Regions from separate parts of the Homo sapiens genome. Here region 2 is linked to region 1. The links come from fine-mapping of genetic effects on gene expression. A gene starts in region 1. The other region holds a variant in brackets. All regions are shown on one strand. Distances are between the middles of the regions.

What was found. PIP is the estimated chance that this variant, and not a neighbour inherited with it, causes the effect. A credible set is the group of variants that fine-mapping cannot tell apart.
Region 2: its variant is the best candidate, but not a certain one, in a credible set for the expression of MAP2K5-DT in esophagus mucosa (GTEx, PIP 0.82).

The regions. Positions count from the first base shown.
Region 1 is chr15:67,538,787-67,547,085 of GRCh38, reverse strand. MAP2K5-DT (MAP2K5 divergent transcript) reads left to right here and starts at 4,456. Exons shown (of 1, transcript NR_186334.1): 1 at 4,456-6,018. It overlaps MAP2K5 (mitogen-activated protein kinase kinase 5), which reads right to left and starts at 4,383. Exons shown (of 22, transcript NM_145160.3): 1 at 3,616-4,383. The coding sequence starts at 3,750. RefSeq lists a silencer at 4,248-4,367 and enhancers at 5,241-5,290, 4,943-5,443, 7,477-7,566.
Region 2 is chr15:67,426,638-67,434,975 of GRCh38, reverse strand. All of the region lies in intron 16 of IQCH (IQ motif containing H), which reads right to left. It overlaps IQCH-AS1 (IQCH antisense RNA 1), which reads left to right. Exons shown (of 6, transcript NR_040052.1): 4 at 4,576-4,655. Among named protein-coding and RNA genes, the nearest start is that of C15orf61, 90 kb to the left of the region's middle. The variant C/T (reference allele first, on the strand shown) is at 4,805.

The DNA.
Region 1 (8,299 bases):
GTGTGTGTTTTCTTCTTTTTTGAGATAGGGTCTCGCTCTGTGACCCAAGCTAGAGTGCAGTGGTGCAATCACAGCTCCCTATAGCCTCGACCTCTAGGTTCAAGAGATTCTCCCACCTCAGCCTCCCTAATAGCTGGGACCACAGGTGAGTGTCACCAAGCCCCCACTAATTTTTGCATTTTTTGTAGAGATGGGGTTTTGCCATGTTGCCCAGGCTGGTCTCGAACTCCTGAGTTTAAGCGATCTACCCACCTCGGCCTCCCAAAGTGTTGGCATTACAGGCCTAAGCCACCACTCCTGGCCCAGAAGTCTTATAGATGAGGGGAAATCTGAGCTTGGAGACCACAGAATACAAAAAGAAGAGGGGAGAGGGTTGGGCATTCTCTCTCATCACACACTAACCAGACCTCTTGTATAGTTTTCCCAAAACTAGGAACTCAGTCTCCAGGGAAAAAGAGAAACACAGAAAGCTGCAAAACAGAAGACCCAAATGTCTCTACCTTTGAGGGTCAGGTCAGCCTCCATAGTTCAGCCAGTCCCTGATGATTCAGACAAAAGACAAGGCCCAGAGAGACCGACTGACTTGCCCAGGGTCTCCCAGCTATTTGATGCACAGTGACTGGAGCCCTCAACTGCTGACTTCAGGTCCGAGACACTCAGTTATGGCTGACTCGGTGACTACAACCTGCTTCTGGCATCTGTGTCAGGTTCTGCCAAAAATTAGCTGGGTGGCTTTAGCAAGGTATTTTCCCCCTGTGGGGTTCATGCCTCTTCATTCGAAATGAGTCTGAATTAGATGAGGGGATTCTTCCAGGTTCCACGTGACTTTAAAGTTTAAGGTTCCAAGCCAGAGATGCTGACGTGTCTCTTGGTTCTTGCCTTTTCTTGATGAAGAGATGAAGTAAACCTGGAGAACAGATCACAGGAGTCTGCCATGATCTGGGCTTGAACATTTGCTAAAATGGAGCACTAGGAGATAGCACTGAACACCCACTGCCACAGGTCCTTCGTCAGGCCTTTCTGACAAAACATGCTCCACCTGGGCTTACCTAGCCAAAAGTGTGCAGACACCTGGCATGCTGAGCTCTAGTGGTGGGGCCACTCGTGTTTCCTGTTAAGCCAGTCAGCCTTGAGCCAGGTACAACTTAGAGATGCTCAAGAAACAGAAGACCCAAGTCCAATCCCTTATAATAACAATCCCATCAATAATAACAACACTAATGGAGCGCTTACTATGTGCTAAGTTGTTCTGAGTGCTTTACATGTATCAACTCAAGGAGTCCTCAGAACTCTAGGAGGTAGGCATTACTTTCACCCCTCCCCAACTTTTTTTTCACAAATAAAGAAACTGAGATACAGAAGATACTTGCCCCAGTAGTACAACTTGCAAGTTAAACAACCTGGCTCCAGAGTTTGTGGTCTTAAACACTGGGCTATTCTTGAAATAATCACATAACCAAATAATATAATCACATAATAATCAACCTTCCATTGTTTTAAATGAGTAAGAGAAAACCCATCTTTCTCATCACAGTCACAATCTCACATAATCTTTCCAAGTCTTTGAGGAAGGTACAAGTTTCCCTGTTTTACAAATAAGGAAACTAAGGCTCAGAGAGGTAGACTGACTTGCCTAGTCAGTGGGACAGCTTGCAATTAAACCCAAATTCCTTGACTCTAAACCTAGTGTTCTGTCCACAGAACCATAATTGCATGCATCCTCTTTTAAGCTCCCTTCTTAAACAAGTATTTTGGGGTCCTATGAAGAAACAAAAACAAACATATCTATCTCCTCCAGAAGTTTACCATCTAGTGGAGGAGACAAAGAATCATGATCAAACATGTGCTTTGCTGGGGGACCCACACAAAGCTGTGACGACACAGAGGTGGGGCACATAACCAAGAATGACACAGAGAAAAAGCACAACTTGGCTTGGAAGGACAGGTGGGAATTGACCGGTGAAGAGCAGAGTGCAGACAGCCTGGACACCTGGGAGAAATGAAAATCAACCTATGTAAGTGAGGCACAGAAGTTTATGGGGCCGTGAAGAGAGATGACACAGGTGCCAGGCAGACAGGGGCCAATCCAGATGTGCCCAGAGGACCACATGAAGGAGCCTGGGCCTTATCATGAGGGGAAATCTGTATGTGCATGACTGTGTGGAGAACTCCGGATACAAAGAGAAGGATGGCATTTGATGCACAATATGGAAAGCTCCTGGTCAAGGCACCCAAAAATCTGCATGGCCTGGGCAGTCAGTAACATCTAGAACTCAAAATGAAGTTATAGAAATCAAATTTTGATTAAGTTACCCAAGACAATGAAAAATCACATCACAAATCTTCCTCTTCCCAAGATCCTGCCACCTTGCCCACTCTTAACTTGCAGGTAGTGATGTGCTTTTCGGAATGTCCGCTTCTGTCTTCCATGCCTCAGTTATTCTGCATGTAGAATGGGCACAAGGCACCCTGTCTATCTCAAATGAATACCAGAAAGATTAGAAGCGGCTGCAACATGTAGGGAAAGAAACCTACTAAGTCAATGAAACAAAATTTTAGTTCTGGTACTGACTCTCCCACTCAGGAGCTCACAGCTTTGGAAAAGCCATTTCACCTCACTGCTCCTCAGTAACTATCTGCAAAAAAGAAACATCAGCTGAACAGGCCACCTACAGTGTTACACTCTGCTCTAAAATTCCATCATTTTATTTGAAATATATTCTGAAAAATCTGAATGTAAAATATCACCAATTCTAAGATGCACATTTTCCCTTACTTTTACCGTCTCTGAAACTGGACTCATTTTAATAACGGATGATGTGTCATACTGTCATGGTTAGCATTTTTTTCTAAGTAAAATGTCTTACATTCAATGATGCTTTAAGTTTGCTCAGGCTGGGCACAGTAACTCACACCTGTAATCTCAGCACTTTGGGAAGGCCGAGGCAAGCAAATCGCAGGAGTTCAAGACCAGCCTGGGCAACATGGCAATACCTCGTCTCTACAAGATACAAAAATTATCCAGGTGTGATGGCATGTGCCAGCTACTTGGGAGGCTGAGGTAGGAGAATCGCTTGAGCCCAGGAGGCAGAGGCTGCAGTGAGCCGAGATCGTGCCACAGCACTGCAGCCTGAGCGACAGAGTGAGGCCCTGTCTCAAAATAAATTAATGAAACAGTGTGCTCAAACATGGTAAGTTAAAGTTGTCCTTTTTCCCTTTCTCAGCTGGTCACCAAGTTCAGAGAACTCAGTAGAAAAACAAGGCTGGAATCTGTCCAAGGACATTCCCCGAAACACTTGGGGGGAAAAAACCTCTCTTCTAGATTCAGCAGTTTGCATTTGCGTGGTTGTGTCTATATGTGTGTCCCAGCCCGGGCCATGAGCTCTCTGAGGGCAGGGGTTCAGTCAGATTGATCTATCTCCCCAGGGTCCTAGACATTTGCCAGGTTTTAGTGGTTGCAATTTATCAATGCTGTGCCTGAAGCAATAAAACTGCCTCCACAGGAAGCCAGCAGTAGCCATTGCCACTGGCTCAGGTCACCAGTGGTCAAGGTGCTGACTACTCAAGTCCCTGAGTCCCCCTTGCTGGCATCCGGACACTGAGATTACCACTCACCAGCACATCCCTGAAGAGTAACTGCGGCCCGGAGTGCACTGTCCAGTCCACCGCGCCACTATTTGGGATCTTGATGCGAATTACCAGCACCTGGTTCTCCATGGCAGGAAAGGGGCCAAGGGCTAGCCACAGCATTACAGGTTAAAGAGGCTCACATCCTGGGGTATGGGAAACCCACTGGCCGCTGGTTAGGAGGGGGCTCCAAGAGGTGACAAGGGGAGTGACGGGCAGAGGACAGAGGGTGAAAACAAGGGAATGGAGGATGAGGGGGAGGGAAGAGGGGAGGGGTGATCAGGAACGCACCCGCAGGCACCGAGCCTGCCCAGGCTGTCGGGGGTCTGAGGTGTCTCCCGGGGAGGGTGCACCGGGAAGCGGGCAAAGGCCCGCAGGAACTAGCGGAGGTCGGAAGGTTCTGGAGTTGAGCGAACGCTATGGTGAAGGTCTCTGCCGCCGTGTGGGTATGAGGAGGCAGCAGGGCAAGGACTCGGTTTGGGGGAGATACAGCGGCAGGTGTCCACCGCTCGTCAGTGGACTAGGAGAGGGTCCTCGACTGGAGGGGACTCAGTCCGGGGCTATTAAGAAAGAGCCCCAGGGCCGCCACACCACGGAGAGTCCCCGCGGGAGGTTCAAGGGGCGAGTCTTCTGCCCCACCCGGAGACACAGGGCGCGGCGCGCGCAGGCTGAGCTCCGGCCACCCGAGGCCGCGCGGACTGGCGGCGGCTGCGGCGGCGGCGACGGCGGTAGCGGCGAGAGGAGGAGGAGGAAGGCGGCGGCGACACTGTTACTCCGGAACCAAAACGCGCGGCGCCGGAACCCCGGGAGCCGACGAGCGGGACCCGCCTCCCGCGGCGCCATGTTGGAAAAGGGCAGCAGCTCCCGGGAGGATGCGCCCCCGGCGTGGGAAGCCGAGGAACCGGCGCGCGGCGCGCGGCGCGTGGCGCGTGGCGAGTCGGGGAGAGACTGGTCTTGCTCGCTCAGGAGACCCTCATCGCCCACAGAGCGCCCGCGGCGACCCGGTCACGGCCCTTCCATTTCCTGACCCTGCTTAATGACAGCGAGGTGAAAACATCTACCAAACGAAGGGTAAAAGGCTGGAGTCCGCCAAAAGCCAATTTAAGGCTTAACATTGCAGACCGTTTGTCTTTACAAAAGCTTCAAAGACGGGGCTGCAGCTCCCGGTTATCCCCACTTTGTCAAGCCATGAATCTGAATGTTCGTGGGGTTGTGTGCATCGAATCAGCAAGAGCAAGGCAAGAATTCAAGAAATAGTTCTTTTTTATCCCCCCTTCCAAGTCACAGGTTCAGAGGATCATCATCTTTCTCCCACATTAGCAAAACATATTTGCATTTTTCAGTGAAGTTCTTTACCGCACGAGTGCCCTAAAATAGCAAACAGTTCCCTGTTCAAAAGCAATAGTAAAGAAATTCGCCGAAGAGTTTAATTGCCTGGGGACAGCTGCAGTAGTCGCATCATCGTCTCTTATTAAACTGTTGCAGAAATATTCGGTCTAGTCCATGTATTTTCAACTAAATAGCACTGCTTACGCAGTTGGTGATATGGTGATATCACGGAAGTAGCAATAAACCTTGGTTATCTTTTTTTTTTTTTTTTTTGAGACGGAGTCTCGCTCCGTCGCCCAGGCTGGAGTGCAACGGCGCGACCTCTACTCACCACAACCTCAGCCTCCCGGATTCAAGCGATTCTCCTGCCTCAGCACTACCACCCCCACCAGCCCCCAACCCCTGCCGAGTAACTGGGACTACAGGCGTGCGCCATCCGTGCCCGCTCATTTTTGTATTTTCAGTAGAGACTGGGTTTCACTATGTTGGCCAGGCTGGTCTCAAACTCCTGACCTCGTGATCCGCCCACCTCAGCCTCCCAAAGTGCTGGGGGGATTACAGGTGTGAGCCACCGCGCCCGGCCAACCTTGGTTATCTTCAAATGCCTTGTTACCTCAGATTTTAAAGTGCATAAGGTTGTAGAACGATGGTGCCTCTACAGAAGTTTCTTTACAAATTGTAATGTGTAGGTTCGTCCTTTATTTCTTTCTTATGAAGGTGCACGAATTGGCTTTACTTTCTGGGGTTGAATTTTGTATAAACTCGGTTGAGGAGGCTTGTCAGTTTCCCTTCTAACAGTAAGGTGCTTGATTAATGTGAGAGAAAAAAATTAATGTTGGTCATTTTCAGTTACAATACCAAAATTTTTTCTGCATACTTTACTCTGAGTTACTTTTATATTTAATTTGAAAGGCCATTGTAGGAGATAAATTATCACATTTTAAGTTACTGTAAATCAATAGCTTAGGTAGAAATTCATTTAGTCAGATCCTTCAGATATTCTAGGAATTTCCCCTTTTCACCTGCACTTCACTTCTGTGAAAAATAAACCGTTCATCAAAAGTCCTCATGTACTTTTATTAAAAGTTCATTTCCTATTATTTTAGAAAATAGACCACGAAACTAGAGATTTTCTATGAACCTGTGATTTGTTAAAATGTCTCTTTTATTCGAAGTACCGTGGGGAAAACCAACTCAATTTGCCAAATTTGCATACATATTCTGAAGCTTTTCTTACACTAATGGCAAACTCATATTTCTGTTCCAATATTTGCAGAGCCAATATAATTACACGTCAGCTCTTCATAGCCTTTATGTAGTAAGAAATCTTAACTTTGATGATTTGAGCAAGGATTTTTCCAGAAAGTTATAACTCTCATTGCGAGAAGCATCATAATCACTGATAATACATTCCACTTGATATCATAAATGACAAAATATAACTTTCTGATCTTTACCAAATTGAATACTGTCTAAATTTAAGGAATATTTAGTATTTAACATCGAAGTTGCATGTGATCTTAAGAAGTTTGCATTTAGTACTTTTTTTCATTTTATTTTATTTTATTTATTTATTTTGAGACGGAGTCTTACTCTGTCACCCAGACTGTAGTGCACTGGCGCAGTCTCGGCTCATTGCAACCTCCACCTCCCAGGTTCAAGCGATTCTCCTGCCTCAGCCTCCCAAGTAACTAGGACTATAGGTATGTGCCACCACGCCCAGCTAATTGTTGTACTTTTAGTAGAGACGAGGTTTCACCATGTTGGCCAGGCTGGTCTGGAACTCCTGACCTCAAGTGATCCACCCGTCTCGGCCTCCCAAAGTGCTAGGAATACAGGCGTGAGACAGCGCGCCAGGCCTTTTTTCTTGTTAAATGATACAAGTCAGAATAGTCACTCAGGTACTGGCTGAGATAGTTTACTAGCCATTAAGCAAACTTACTGTAAAAAAAAAACTGTGCTTACTTGTAGTGTTCCTACTTGAGGGATTTACTTTTCACTAAGTGTAATAGAAAATCCCTCCCCTCATGAAGTTATATTCTGATGGGGAACACAGACAAATGAGTAAAATATATGTTAGATAGTAGTAAATGCTAACAGAAAAATGAAATCAGAAGGGAAAATGGTAAAACAGTAAGTGCACCAGTGTGATAACACTAAGGAATATGAAAACTGGCCTATATTGGCTTCAGTTAACTGGCAAATTTAACTGAAAATAGACACATTACTGAAAAGTTAGATGTCTAGTGATTTTTTTCCTTGTGATAAAATACACATAAAATTTACCATTGTACTCATTTTGAAGTGTGCAGATCAGTAGTGTTACATACATTCATTCATCCTGTTGTACAGCCAATCTCCAGATTTTCATCTTGCAAAACTGAAACTCTATATTCATTAAACAACTGCCCACTTCCCCTTCCCTCCAGCCCCTGGCAACCACCAATCAACTTTCTATTTCTATGAATTTGACTACTCTAGATACCTCATATAAATAGAATCATCCAGTATCTGCCTTTTTGTGACTGGCTTATTTCACTTGGTATAATGCCTTCAGGGTCCATCATGTTGTAACATGTGTCAGCATTTCCTTACTTTTTTTTTTTTTTTTAAGATGTACTCTTGCTGTGTCATCAACACTGGAGTGTAGTGGCATGATCTAGGCTCCACCTCCTGGGTTCAAGCAATTCTCCCACTTCAGCCTCCCAAGTAGCTGGGATTACAGGTGCCCACCACCACACAAGGCTAATTTTTGTATTTTTAGTAGAGACAGGGTTTCACCATGTTGGCCAGATTGGTCTCGAACTCCTGACCTCAGGTGATCCACCCACCTTGGCCTCCCAAAGTGCTGGGGTTACAGGCATGAGCCACCACCCCTGGCCATTTCCTTCCTTTTCAAAGCTGAACAAAATTCTGTTGTGTGTATATAACACATTGTGTGTATCCATTCATCTATCAATGAACATTTAAGTTGTTTCCACCTTTTGGCTATTGTGAATAATGCTGATATGAACATGGGGGTACAAATATCTGTTCCTGTCTCTCCTTTCGACTTTTTGGGATGTATACTCAAAAGTGGAATTGCTGGATCATATTTTCTATGTTTAATTTTTTGAGGAATCACCATACTGTTTTCCAGAGTGGCTGTACCATTTTACATTCTCACCAAAAGTGCATAAGAGTTCCAATTTCTCCATGTTTTCACCACCACTGGTTATTTTCTATATTTGTTTATAGTAGCTATCCTGTTGGGTATAATGTGATATCTTACTGTAGTTTTAATTTGTATTTCTCTAATGATTAGTGATGTTGAACATCTTTACCTATTCTTGTTGCTCATTTG
Region 2 (8,338 bases), 110 kb after region 1:
ATACAAAAATACAAAAAAATTAAAAAAAAATACAAAAATACAGGCGTGGTGACGCGCTTGTAGTCCCAGCTACTCAGTAGGTGAGGCAGGAGAATCGCTAAACCCTAGAGGCAGAGGTTGCAGTGAGCCACGCCACTGCACTCTGGCCTGGGCAACAGAGTCAGACTCCGTCTCAAAAAAAAAAAAAAAAGAAAAGAAAAGAAAAGACAAAAGATAAGTATTGGTGAGAATGTGGAGAAAGGGAACCCTTATACACTGTTAGTGGGAATGTAAATTAGTACAGCCACTGTGGAAAACTGTATGGAGGTTCCTCAAAAACTTAAACACAGAACTACCATATGATCCACCAATCCCACTTCTGAGTGCGTAGCCAAAGAAAATAAAATCTTGAAGAGATATCTGCACTGCCGTGTCCATTGCAGCATTATTCATAATAGCCAAGACGTGGAAACAACCTAAGTGTCAGTTGATGACAGATGAAAGGATGAAGAAATTGTGGTGTGTGTGTATATATGTATGCATGTATATACACATTGGAATATTATTTAGCCTTAAAAAAGAAGGAAATTCTGTCATTCATGACAATATGAATGAACCTGGAGGATAATATGCTAAGTGAAATAAGCCAGACACAGAAAGACAAATACTGCATGATCTCACTTACATGTGGAATCCAAAAAAGTCAAACTTATAGCAACAGAAAGTAGATGAGTGATTACCAGGGGTCGGAAGGTGGGGGAAATGGGGAGATGCTGGTTAAAGTGTACAAACCTTCAGTTATAAGATGAATGAATTCTGGAGACCTAACGTATAGCATGGTGACTATAGTTAATAACCACATATTATATACCTGAAATTTGCTAAGAGAGTAGATCTTAACTTCTGACCACACACACACACACATCCAAGTGAGATGATGGATATGTTAATTAGCTTGATTGTGGTAATCATTTCACAAGGTATATTATATTGAAATATCATGTTGTACACCTTAAATAAAAATACTTTTTTTGGGTTAGTTATACCTCAATAAAGCTGGGATCGGAGAAGGACAATTTTGTAAGAGAAAATTTATCACATAAAAAGTCTTGACCACAGGTGACAGCTGGAACTAGAAACAACTTTCAGCTTTGTTTTGGGATGCTGGGGCAAGCTATAAATGCTCATAGGTGAAGAATCTTATGGTCTTTCTTGGCATTAGTAGGGAGCCTTTTCCTTTTTTCCTACCTCCTGCCCTCCTGAGTCCTGCAGAAATGTAGTACCTGCTGGAGACAGCAGGGTGCAGTGTGAGTGTCCAGATTTTCCTCGCCCTGGCCATGTTTCTGGTGATTCAAGTTAAAGATCCCTAAGTGCAGAGAGGTGTCTTGGTTTCATTTGAAAGGAAGCAAAGAGCTCCATGATGAGAATGGGCATCTTTTGAGGAAGTCCTGGGGGAACAGCTGATGTAAACAGAGGAATTAGGTCCGTTATATGCAGATCAACCAAAATCCTACCCAAGAGCTGATATTTAGGCTTGGGTTCAATATTTCTCAGTGTGAAGGTTTACAGTGTAAGGGGGGTTAACCAAACATTTAAGGACAGTCACAAATGGTAATATATACATAGCAAAGTTGGCCACTAGTTTACCTGCACTATCAGTGTTAAGAAACAGAATTGTAATTTTCACTGGAAAAATTTGTCATCATTGCCCATGTGCTTATTGTAGAAGTCATCATCATTGCCATCATCATTACTATTACTTGCATATTATAGGTCTCTTTCATTGACACAAAGATACAGCCCTTTTAAAGGGAGAAGGTCTTTTACTTTAATGCTTCCAAGTCCTTTGGGATGTATTTTCCCTTCACTAGGCATTAACTTGTGATTAACAATCTGCCCACTATAGCACTTTAAAACACTGAATAATAGGTACTTCTGTTAATACCAAAGGCGTATTACATTTTAATTTAGATATACTCTGTTAGCCTTCTTCCATATAAATAAAATACTTTCCCTAAAGAGAAAAAGTAAATCTCATTGAGCTTCCTTGGTGAATACCTTGTATATCTTGAAAACAGAGATAGGGGAGATCTTGCAAATGAGAGTACTAGAGGGGGATTTAGAGAAGTATTCATTCATTCATTAAATAAATATTTATTGAACATCTATTATATGCTAGACAGGGTGCTAGGTGCTGGGTATACAGCAGTGAACAAGAAGGAATTATGATATTTCTGTAGACTTTGGTTTTTCCATTCTCTGAAATAAATGTATTCATTTTTGATGCTTATATATCACTTTGAGATGATGATAATGCTCAGTGACTTTTAAAAATAATGCTAATTCAATTCTGATTCAACTCACAGTTTGAGCACCTGCTGAGGGCTCCTGTGACAGTTTTACATGTGGTTATGCCATTTGATTTAATAAGAACATCACCTTATATCTGCTTAGCCTCTCAGAACATACTGTGAGGAAGAGGGCAGGAATTTACCAGTTGATAACAAAAAAACAAGGCTCAGATTGGTCAAGTGAATTGTCTACAGTATCACACTAGTTAGTGGAAAGACTGGGGCCAGAACCCATTGCCATTGCAATGAAAATATTTTCAGATTTTTTTTTATTCTAGGCTGATATTCTGTATTTAGAAACTCTTAAAAATCGTTTTCAGACTTTATGGGATATACTGCGGTATATATCAGGGCCTCCATTTTCATCTTTCCTCACAATCTGTACTTTGTGACAAGTCTTATTTCCTTTCTGTAGCTAACTTTATGTTTTGGAAGGGCCATTACTACTCTCCAATAGCTAGTTTTCATATCAATTCTTCTTAAAGCTTGGATTTTCTTTAATTTCCTTTTTCAAAAAAAGTATTAACTATCAATGCTTATAATACAGATTGTTGTTTCAAAGTTCACAATTATCTAAAATAAGAGTTAATTTATTTATTTATTTTTGAGACAGGGTCTTGCTCTGTCATCCAGGCTGGAGTGCAGTGGCGAGATCCTAGCTTATTGCAGCCAGCCTCCAACTCCTGGGCTTAAGTGATCCTCCTGCCTCAGCCTCCCATGTAGGTAGGATTACAGATGTGTGCCACCATGCCCAACTAATTTTTTATTTTTAATTTTAGAGATGAGTCTTGATGCCCAGGCTAAAAGAACTTTTTTTCCTTTTTCCATCACCTGAAGCTTTTATTTGGTAAAAGCCAGATCACCATGCTCCTCAAGAAACAAGAGGCTACAATCTAAAAAACTATTGATATTGGTAGGAAATGTTCAACTAAATTCTATGATAATTAATGAACCTTATATCTATTCAATTTCCTGTGAAATATAAAGAACAATGTGTGTTTTTTTTTAACTTTTAAGTTCGGGGTACGTGTGCAGGTTTGCTACACAGGTAAACTTGTGCCATGGGGGTTTGTTGTACACATTATTTCATCACCCAGGTATTAAGCCTAGTACCCAGGAGTTATTTTTCCTGATTCTCTCCCTCCTCCCACCCTCCACCCTTTGATAGGCCTCAGTGCGTGGTGTTCCCCTCTATGTGTCCCTGTATTCTCATCATTTAGCTCCCACTTATAAGTGGGAACATGCAGTATTTGGTTTTCTGTTCCTGTGTTAGTTTACTAAGGATAATGACCTCCAGCTACATCCATGTCCCTGCAAATGCAGGACATGATCTTGTTCTGAAAGAATTTTTTAATTTGGGAATTTTCATATAGAGCATCTTTGCCAATCTATTTGTTTAGAGACTTTTATATGAGGAACAGGAATGGGAGAATTGCTATATAAATGTATATTTACTTGAGGTGAATCCAACATGATATTTGTAAGACTTAGATCATCATTTTTATCCATATGTGTTCTGTGCTTTTTCCCACCACTCTTTCCCACCAAGTGAGCCTGTTTCTCACTTGGAATACACTCTTTCTTACCCTCCTCATATCCTAATTTTCTTTCGGCTCAAATCCCACCTTCTCTGCAAAACCTTTCTTGATTGCTCCCAACAGAAGGGATCTTTCTCTTGTCTGAATGCATGTAGAAAAATCATTTGGCCGTTAAACTGATATTACCTTTTTGATGTCTCTTTTATTGTTCTACGTAGTTGTCACTTAAGCCTTTCCTTGCTACTCATTTTTCAAGCCTATCTTCCCAACTAGAATGTGAACTCCCTAAGGGCAGGCACTTCCATGTCTTTTGCATCTTTGTAGCTTCTCTAGCACCTAGCATTATGGCTTATACATAATAGATGCTCAATAAACACTTGTTTTTTTTAGAGTTTCCCCAAAGTGAGTAATTAACTACAAAAGATCTGGATCATCTAGAAGTTCCAAAAGTCCATAAATCAACAAATAATAATCAGGTGGCTGGCCAAATATGACCATCATTGTGTTAGACATTATGAAGAGGTAAAAAAAATTCAAGGCCTAGTACATTTTCTAAAGGATTAAAAAAATCTCATGGAGGCAATATTTATACCTATGAATCAATACAAGTATAAAACAATTGTGTGCATGTATAGCAAATAAAATGGGACGATGGATATGAAATAAGCTTTGTCATGATACAGAAGATGTCTTGTTTATTTCCACAGCACCTAACAGGAAGCCAGAGTAGGTCCTCTGAAGGTGTTTGTTCAATGAACTTGTCATCCTCCTCAACTTAAAGCCTTTAGTAAGTACTTCATATCCCTCCTAGAACCTACTAGATACTGTTTATCATTGATCCTGGCTCCAGGACCCATCAGGATTTGGAAATAGCTTTTGCTGCTATTTGTTTACTGCTTGGATCCCCTTACATAATATTATCCTTATGTGGGAAGG[C/T]CAGATCTCCAACATGGCTGCCTTGTAGCTCTGTGTATTCTGGAGTGCCATGTACTCTGCGTGCCATCTCTGAAGGCCTAGAATTTCCCCATTTCTAGGGTACCAAAATCCTGGACCTAAATCCACTGGCAGGAGTAATCTTAGACCATGCTCCACCATCTCCATTTCCCAGGGACCAGCCCCTTCTTCCTTGATTACAAAATGACCGTGTGTTCTACTTGATGCTTCCAATATTTAAGTCTTACATTTCCACAACTTCTTCTATTCTGCTAGAACCTCATTCTCATCTCCTTAGGTCTAGAAAGAATTCTCCACTTTCTTTTCTGGAGTTGATTCACAATTGTGGGACTGTCCTTGAGGCATTGCTGTCATTTTATCTATTTTGCCTTGGCCCCCAGTCCCCTTTGCCCCTCCTGCGTCAGCATGGTAAATTATGGGGCCCAGCTGGGGCCAATGGGCATGAATTTGAAATGGATGCAGTCACCTCAGTTTTCTGTTTCCCATGTCTTATTGTAAGACCTGTGTGTATGTGAGTAAGATCATGTATGTGAAAGTGCTTTGCAAACAATAACATTCTATACAAATTTTTGTTATCGTTATTCATGTATTTTTTTCTGATTAGAAATATAATACATGTTTGCTTTTTATTTTTTTGAGACAGGGTCTCGTTCTGTTGCTCAAGCTGGAGTGCAGTGGCACGATCATGGCTCACTGCAGCCTCAATCTTCCAGGCTCAAATTATCCTCCTACCTCAGTCTCCTGAGTAGCTGGGACTATAGGTGCACATCATCATGTCCAGCTAATTTTTAAAAAATTTTTTGTAGAGACAAGGGTTTTGCTATGTTGCCTATGCTGATCTCAAACTCCTGAACTCAAGTGATCCTCCCATCTCAGCTTTCCAAAGTGCTGGGTTTATACACATGAGCCACTGAGCCTAGACTATAATACATGTTTACTTTTGCAGAAAACACAAAGAACAAAATAGCAACCACCCTCTATATTAGTATCCTATTGCTGCTGCAACAAATTGCCACAAACTTCCTGGCTTAAAACAACACAGATTTATTATTTTTCAGCTCTGTGGGTCAGAAGTCTTACTGGGCTAAAAATTAAGATGTGGGCAGGGCTTTGTTCCTCCTGGAGACTCTAGAGGAGAATCTGTTTCCTTGCCTTTTCTGGCTTCTAGAGGCCATGTGCCTTCATTGGCTCATGCCATTGGCTCATGGTCCCTTCCTCCTTGTTCAAGGCCAGCAGCACAGCATCTTCAAATCCTTCTCTTTCTATGATCCCCCTGCCTCTCTCTCTCTCTTTTTTTTTTTTTTTTGAGACAGAGTCTCACTCTGTCACCAGGCTGGAGTGCAGTGGCATGGTCTCAGTTCACTGCAACCTCCACCACCCGGGTTCAAGCGATTCTCCTGCCTCAGCCTCCTGAGTAGCTGGGATTACAGGCACGTGCCACCATGCCCAGCTAATTTTTGTATTTTTAGTAGAGATGGGGTTTCACCATATTGGTCAGGCTTGTCTCAAACTCCTGACCTCGTGATCCACCCGCCTCGGTCTCCCAAAGTGTTGGGATTACAGGTGTGAGTCACCGCACCCGGCCTGCCTCTCTTTTAAAAGGACCCTGGTGATTATATTGGGGCCACCTGGATAATGCAAGCTACTCTTCCCAACTCAAGATCCTTAACTTAATCACATATGCAAAGTCCTTTTGCCATGCAACATAATGTTCACAGATTTGGGGAATTAGGGTGTGGATATCTTTAGCGGACCATTACTCTGCCACCTTCAATCTTGCTGTCCAGAAATAATGACTTGTAACATCTTAGTATATATCTTTAGGTTCTTTTAACTCTGCATTTATATATTTTTTTCTTTTTATAAAATTATCATATTGCATATATTGCTTGTGATCTGCTTTTTACCTTTATCTATTCTATAAAGTTTCCTGTTAAATATTCTTTAAAAACATTAGTTTTAATGTCTTCATAGTATGCAATTTCATTGAACTATCATAATTTGCTCTAAATATTCTCTATAGTTGGAGATCAGGTGCAGTGGCTCACGCCTGTAATCCCAGCACTTTGGGAGGCCAAGGCAGGTGGATCACTTGAGGCCAGGAGTTCAAGACCAGCCTGGCCAACATGGCGAAACCCCGTCTCTACTAAAAATACAAAAGTTAGTCAGGTGTGGTGTGTGCCTGTAATCCCAGCTACTCAGGAGGCTAAGGCACAAGAATCACTTGAGCCTGGGAGGCAAAGATTACAGTGAAGCAAGATCATGCCACTGCACTCCAGCCTGGGCAACACAGGGAGATTCTGCTTCAAAAAAAAAAAAAAAAATCTATTATTGGAATTTAGACTACTTGAAATATTTTGCTATTCTTAATAATGATGTGATTAATATATGTGTATTTAAATCTTTGTGATTATTTCCTGGTGATAATTTTTTTAAAGTGGATGATTATTATTAACATTTGAATTTGCTGATACAGAAAATAAGTGCTTTAAAATGTTATTGAAATAAAGACTGTTTTGAACTGTAGGTTACCTCAGATGCAAAATAAGCTAACCTCCTCATTTTATAGCTGAGAAAACTGAAAATGAGGGAAAGTGATAAGTTCAAGGTAATATAGCAATTTAGAAGAAGAGCTGGAGGCCAGGCACAGTGGTTCACACCTGTAATCCAAGCACTTTGGGAGGCCAAGGCAGGAGGATGGCTCAAGGCCAGGAGTTCAAAACCAGCCTGGGCAACATAGTGAGACCCTATCTCTACAAAAAAAAGAAAAGAAAAAAGAAAAACAGCTGGATTTGACTATATGAAACTTTAGTATGATGAAGAGTATTACAAATAAAACACAAATGACAGGATTGGGATCCAAGCACATGAGGCATGGAGGGGTAGGGCACAGATAGAGTAGGCAAAGAAGATGGCAGGAGTGGTTGGGAGATTAGTTACATTAAACAAATAAGTAAACTGACTAAGCAAAGAAGTAACTATATTGAGGGATAAAGACTCAAGTTTCTCATTGTTGGAGAAGTTATTTATTTTTTAGTGTTCCAATAAAACTTTATTTACATAAAATGAATGCTGGGTCAGATTTAGCCTGTAGGCCATTGTTTACCAACTCCTGCTCTAGACTATCTTGATCCTCCTGTTTCTGGGATTTTCTTCTTCTTTTTTTTTTTTGGATACTGGGTCTCTGTTGCCCAGGCTGGAGTACAGTGGTACAATCACAGCTTATTGCAGCATTGACCTCCCGGGCCCAAGCAATCCTCCTACCTCAGCCTCTCAAATAGCTGGAATCACAGATGAGTGCCATTATGCTTGGCTAATTTTGTTTATTTTAAAAATTTTTTTGGTAGAGACTGGACCTTTCTATGTTGCCCAGGCTGGTATTGAACTCCTGAGCTCAAGCAATTCTCCTGCCTCAGCCTCCCAAAGTGCTGGGATTACAGGCATGAGCCACCACATCTGGCCTGGGATTTTATTTTGTAAATATACACAGTTACTATGTTCCAAGTTCTATTTAGC